Regions from separate parts of the Homo sapiens genome. Here region 2 is linked to region 1. Evidence: fine-mapped QTL for protein levels in blood plasma. A gene starts in region 1. The other region holds a variant in brackets. All regions are shown on one strand. Distances are from middle to middle.

The links. PIP is the posterior inclusion probability: the model's chance that the variant is causal. Protein levels are from antibody-based Olink assays in UK Biobank. Linkage for the fine-mapping came from a reference panel and not from the study's own genotypes, which makes the PIPs less certain.
Region 2: its variant is fine-mapped to the plasma level of the TDP1 protein (UK Biobank, PIP 0.93).

What each region holds. Positions count from the first base shown.
Region 1 is chr14:89,954,347-89,957,256 of GRCh38, reverse strand. TDP1 (tyrosyl-DNA phosphodiesterase 1) reads right to left here and starts at 1,330. Exons shown (of 17, transcript NM_018319.4): 1 at 1,287-1,330; 2 at 457-679. It overlaps EFCAB11 (EF-hand calcium binding domain 11), which reads left to right and starts at 2,527. Exons shown (of 6, transcript NM_145231.4): 1 at 2,527-2,671. The coding sequence starts at 2,597. RefSeq lists a silencer at 1,003-1,232 and an enhancer at 2,298-2,798.
Region 2 is chr14:89,883,641-89,886,550 of GRCh38, reverse strand. All of the region lies in intron 5 of EFCAB11 (EF-hand calcium binding domain 11), which reads left to right. Among named protein-coding and RNA genes, the nearest start is that of EFCAB11, 70 kb to the left of the region's middle. The variant T/G (reference allele first, on the strand shown) is at 1,336.

The DNA of each region.
Region 1 (2,910 bases):
CCACACATAAAAATTTTAATAGCCAAGATGAGTTAGACATTCATTACATTTTATAAGTATGAGACAGAAAAATAGGGGTGACCTTTGGAATATACTTAAAAAGTAACATATAAATGAGACCCAGAGGGCCAAAAGGAACCTGCTGTCTAAATGATGGGGTGAAGAGCATTCCCAAGTAGAGGGAACCCAGCCGGCAGAGGTGGGAAAGAGGTCATAAGAAAGGACTTAGGCAAGGCAGGCAGTGGTCCGAAGCGGGTGAGGGGAGAAGACTTGTTAAAGAAATTGGATTTTATGCAATGATCAATGGGACCCCACTGAGGGCTTTAAGAAGGGGAGTCCGATTTACATTTATTTTTTTGAGACAGAGTCTCGCTCTGCCGCTCAGGCTGGAGCGCAATGGCGCAATCTCGGCTCACTCCAACCTCTCTGCCTCCCAGGTTCAAGCAATTCTCCTACCTTAGCCTCCCGAGGAGCTAGGATTACAGGCATCCACCATCACGCTCGGCTAATTTTTCTATTTTTGTAGAGACGGGGTTTCACCATGTTGCCCGGGCTGATCTCAAACTCCTAACCTCAAGTGATTCAGCCGCCTCGGCCTCCCAAAGTGCTAGGATGACAGGCGTGAGTCACCGCGCCCGGCCTTCGATTTGCCTTTTTAATACAGCTGTGTGCTCCAACTCTGCGGAGAATGGGTTGAAGACAAAGGAAGTGAGAGGGCTCTTGCTGAAGGCGTTGGGGACGGAGCAGATTCAGAACGTGAGGAAGTGACGGCAGCAGCTGCTAACCTTACTGCGTGCTCATTTGGGGCCGGCCAGGCACGATTCGAAGCGCCTCACCAAGTGTAAACTCGCTTCACCCTCAGGACAACTCTATACTACGTACCGTGACCGTCCTCCTATACTGGGAAACCGAGCACAGAAAGCTTAAGCGCCTGGCACGTGGTGGGCGCTTTCCTACTCACTTTCTGGGACCACGCACCTGTAAGCTTAGGTCTGGGAATAAAAACCCGAGCAGGGGCCCCTAGCGCCGCGCCCCGGCAGGACACAGGTCTCCGCAGCGCCCGTGCGCGCCCCCTGAGGCGCTGTGATCGGAGGAAACCGAGGCCCCGGGGCCGAGGCGACCCTGCCCCATCTTCCCGGCCGCGCCGCTTCCTCGCGGTCCGCCTCCAGCCCTGCCGGACCCCAGCAGCCCGCGCACCGCGACTCGGCCAGGAGCAGGATCCCGGGCCCGACCGCAGCCCGCGAGAGACCGCACCGAGTCCGCGCCCACTGCCGCCCAACACGTACCTGAGGCGCACAGAACCAACGCTTGCCTCGGATCCCGCCCCTTCGGCGGCCGCCGCGCATGCGCGCAGTTCAAACCCTGGCGGCAGCGGCTTGTGCCTCGAGGCCCGGCCCCTTCCCCTTCCGGAGAGCCCACCGCTGGGTCCTAAAGCCCGCCGGGTGTTTACCCAGGACGGGGCTGGGGAAACCTGGTCTCTCCTAGCTCTTGGCTTACTTCCTGGAGACTTCTTAAAACGAGAGGAGAACCAGAAAGGCGTCCCCTAACTTCGCTCTAGTTAACTAATAGCAAGACTCACCCTCTTTACAGGATTCTCATGGCTCAGGCTCCCAGGGCTCCATGCAGCGGCGTTTGGTTTAAAGTGGAGAGAGGATACGCTTAGGTTAAAGGCAGCTGCAAGGAGACCTGTGTCCTGGGAGGGGCTGGGTGCAGACTTTGAAATCTGCTGCAAAATAAAAAGTTAAATGAGTTCCCATTGGACTCAGAACCTCGAATGTCTGTTCCTTCTTCGCAACAGTTGCGTTCTCGTAAAATCTTCTGAGAAAAGGAACTCGCCCCACGTTCCTTGCCTTTAATAAGGATGTTTGCTGTGGGATTTGGGCTCGGTGCTGTTTATGGTATTTATTCTTGGAATCTCTTTCACACTAGGCATCTCTTCCAGAGGACTGAGTGAAATACATCTGTGTAAATATAACGGCTCGTTTCGTTCTTTCATTGAAGATCTACTTTGTGCCAGGCACAGTGCTAGGTGCTGGGATTATCTTGAGGACATAACAGATGTAGTAGCTGCCCTAGGAGCTCGATCCCAATGACTTGCTGATCTGAACGAGAATCCTGGACTTGGCTCTTTTCGTTTGGTTCTTCTTGTTTGTTCACAGTCTTTTTGTCTCCTATAACGTTTAGCATAGTGTCATAGATCTAAATGATTAAAAGTAACCTATTGCAAGATGGAGGGAGAGAATGAAATAAATCATGAACCAGGCATTGAACCAGCACCTAGAAGCGCTTGGATTTCCAGCCGCGCTCAACGAGTTAAGGGACAGTCAGGGGGTGGAGCCAAGTGCTGGGGGCAGGCCTGGGCGCCTCACTGCCAGGGCGGCTCCAAGGAAACGTAATTAAACAAAGACTCTGGCCAATAGCCCTGCGGGATTAACGCGAGTGGCTGGCAGGTTGTCCAATGGGAGGAGACGTCGGAGTTGCGCGGTGAAGTTCGGCTTCCTGAGCCGCGGTGGGCGTGGCCGCGGTAGGCTGCCAGCCAGGCTGGGAAAGCGGTGGTAGCTGGTTGGGTTGCTGGGGCTCGGTTGTTGTAGTCGCGATGTTCTTCTCCGAGGCCAGAGCCAGGTCGCGGACGTGGGAAGCCAGTCCCTCGGAACACAGGAAGTGGGTGGAAGTAGGTTTCCGGAGGGCGACTGAGCCTCGGACTTCAGCTTGGCCTGGGCCTCTCGCTTCCTCTCCCGTGTCTGGGTCTCACTCTGCCGGGTGTGCAGATAAGACCTGGGCTGCCTGTCCAAAGGGTCGTGGTTAATGACTGATCCTGGAGCTGCAGGGCTCCTGGCTCCCCGTCCAGGACTACGGCTACCTCCAAGTTCCATCTCCTTTCTCTCTATATAGTCTATTAATGGTAACCTT
Region 2 (2,910 bases), 71 kb after region 1:
CTTTCCTTTTTTTTTTTTTTTTTTTTTTTTTTTGAGACGGAGTTTCGCTCTGTTGCTCAGGCTGGAGTGCAGTGGCGCGATCTCAGCTCACTGCAAGCTCCGCCCCCAGGGTTCATGCCATTCTCCTGCCTCAGCCTCCCGAATAGCTGGGACTACAGGCACCCGCCACCACGCCCGGCTCATTTCTTTGTATTTTTAGTAGAGACGGGGTTTCACAGAGTTGGCCAGGATGGTCTTGATCTCCTGACCTCGTGATCCACCAGCCTTGGCCTCCCAAAGTGCTGGGATTACAGGCATGAGCCACCACGCCTGACCGAGCAGATCACTTTCTATAAGGTGAGAGGGCCTCATCTAATCAGTTGAATGCCTTAAGAGAAAACATGTAGGTCCCCCAGGGAAGAAGCAGTTCTGCCCACAGGCTGCCTTCAGATTTGAGGCTGCAACATTAACTCTTCCCTTGACTCTCTGTTATGTTGCATTGGTCTGTTTGTCTATCTTTGTGCCAGTATCACACTCTCTTTATTATATAACTTTGTAATCTTGATGTCTGGCAGTGTAAGTCCTAGAGCTTTGTGTTTTCTTCAGAATTATCTTGGCTATTTTTAGCCCATTGTGTTTTAAAATAAATTTTAGAGTCAGTTTTTCAATTTCCACCAAAGAAAAAAAAAGAAAAAAACAAGAAGCCAACTTCAAACCCAAAAGTTGCTGTCTTCTTTCTTTCTCTTTCCTTCTTTCTTTCTTTTAGTTGCTGTCTTCTTTCTTTCTTTCTCTCTTTCTTTCTTTCTTTCTTTCCTTTCTTTCCTTTCTTTCTCTCTCTCTCTCTTTCTCTCTCTCTTTCTTTCTCTCTTTCTCTCTCTTTCTCTCTTTTTTTTTTTCAACAGAGTCTTGCTCTGTCACCCAGGCTGGAGTGCAGTGGTGCGATCTCAGCTCACTGCAACCTCCACCTCCCAGGTTCAAGCGATTCTTCTGCCCCAGCCTCCAAGTAGCTGGGACTACAGGCGCACGCTACCACGCCTGGCTAATTTTCTGTATTTTTAGTAGAGATGGGGTTTCACCATGTTAGCCAGGATGGTCTCGATCTCCTGATCTCGTAATCCACCTGCCTCAGACTTCCAAAGTGCTGGGATTACAGGCTTGAGCCACCACGCCCGCTGGCTGGGTTTTTAATTGAATTTATATTGAATCTTTAGACTAGATCAATTTGGGGAGAACTGACAATGCCAAAATGTTTTAAGTCTTCCAGTGCATGAATAAAGTATATCCTTTTGTTTTTAAAGGTCTTATTTAACTTTCCTTGCTGTTTTGTAGTTTTAATGTAAAAGTTTTACACATATT[T/G]TATCAGATAATTCTGAAATATTTGGTTTTTATGTAGTTATATAGATTTTTAAATTTTATTTTCTACTTATTTAGATATACAATTGTTTTTTATATGCTGGTCTTACACCAGCAGCATGACTGAATGTCTTAGTCTAGTCCGTCTGTTGTAACAGAATACCATAGACTGGGTGGCTTAAACAACAGAAATTTATTTTCTCACAGTTCTTAAGACTGCGAAGTCTGCAATCAGATGCCAGCATGGTCTGGTTCTGGTGAGGAGGCTCTTCCTGGCTTGCAGATGGCTGCCTGCCTGGCTGTGTGCTTCTGGGTCCTTTCCTGGACATGTGCACAGAGTGGGGGATCTCTTGCTCTTCTTATAAGAGCACTAATCCCTTATGATGGTCCCACTCTCATGACCTAATTACTTCCCAAAGACACCACCTCCAAATACTGTCACATTGTGGGTGAGGGATTCGACACAGAATTTAGAGCAGGAGTGGGCACACACATTCAGTACATAATACAAAGTTAACTTATTCTAGTACTTCGTCTTAGTAATTGTAATAGTATATATTTTATGTTTTCTAGGCATGCAATCAAGTCATCTTCAAACAATAGTAGTTTTATTTCTTCTTTTCCAATTCTTATGTCATTGATTTCTTTTTCTTTTCTTACTATATCAGCTAGGGTCTCCCACATAGTGATAAATAAAAGTTATGTGAGCAGGTATCCTGTTTCTTCCCCATCTTGGTGGGGGGAGGGGAAAACTTTAGTATTTCACATTAACTATGGAATATGCAATAGGTTTTTGGGTTTTGTTATGTTTTTAGGGGATAAATAACCTTTATTAGATTAAGGGAGCTCCTGCTTTGCTAAGAAATTTTATCATGAATAAATACTGACTTTTATTAAATGCTTTTTCTGCTCATGTTGCCATAATCATATTTTTCTCCTTTACCCTGTTAATGTGATGATGATATGCAGTAGACCAATAGTAAAAATAGAACTATTGTACCATTAGTAAATGTGAGGCTTAGAGGATATACAATTGTATAATTTTTTTTTGTTAAGGGCATTTAAAAATTACTGTTTTCTTATTATTTTTTAGAGACAGAGTCTCCCTGTGTTGCCCAGGTTGGAGTGCAGTGGTGAGAGCATGGCTCACTATAGCCTCAAACTCCTGGGCTCAAGCAATCTTCCCACCTCCGCCTCTGGAGTAGCTGGGACTATGGGCATGTGCTACTATGCCCAGCTAGTTTTTTAAAACTTTTTTGGAGATGAGGTCTCACTCTGTTGCCCAGGCTAGTCTTGAACTCCTGGCCTCAAGCAGTCTCCCACCTCCATCTCTTGAGTAGCTGGATTACAGATGTAAGCCACTGTACCTGACTATATGGACATTATTTGTAGTAGATTCCACAATGCTGTTAAATTTGTCTATATCTAACAGGTACTTGGGAAGAATAATTAAATGAACAGAGAAGTGGTTTAGAAGTGACAGGTGACTTGGCATTTGTGTCCAAATAAAAAGTAAATGTACATTTGGCCCTCTATATCAGCAAGTTCCATGTCTGTGGATTCAACCAACTGAGGACA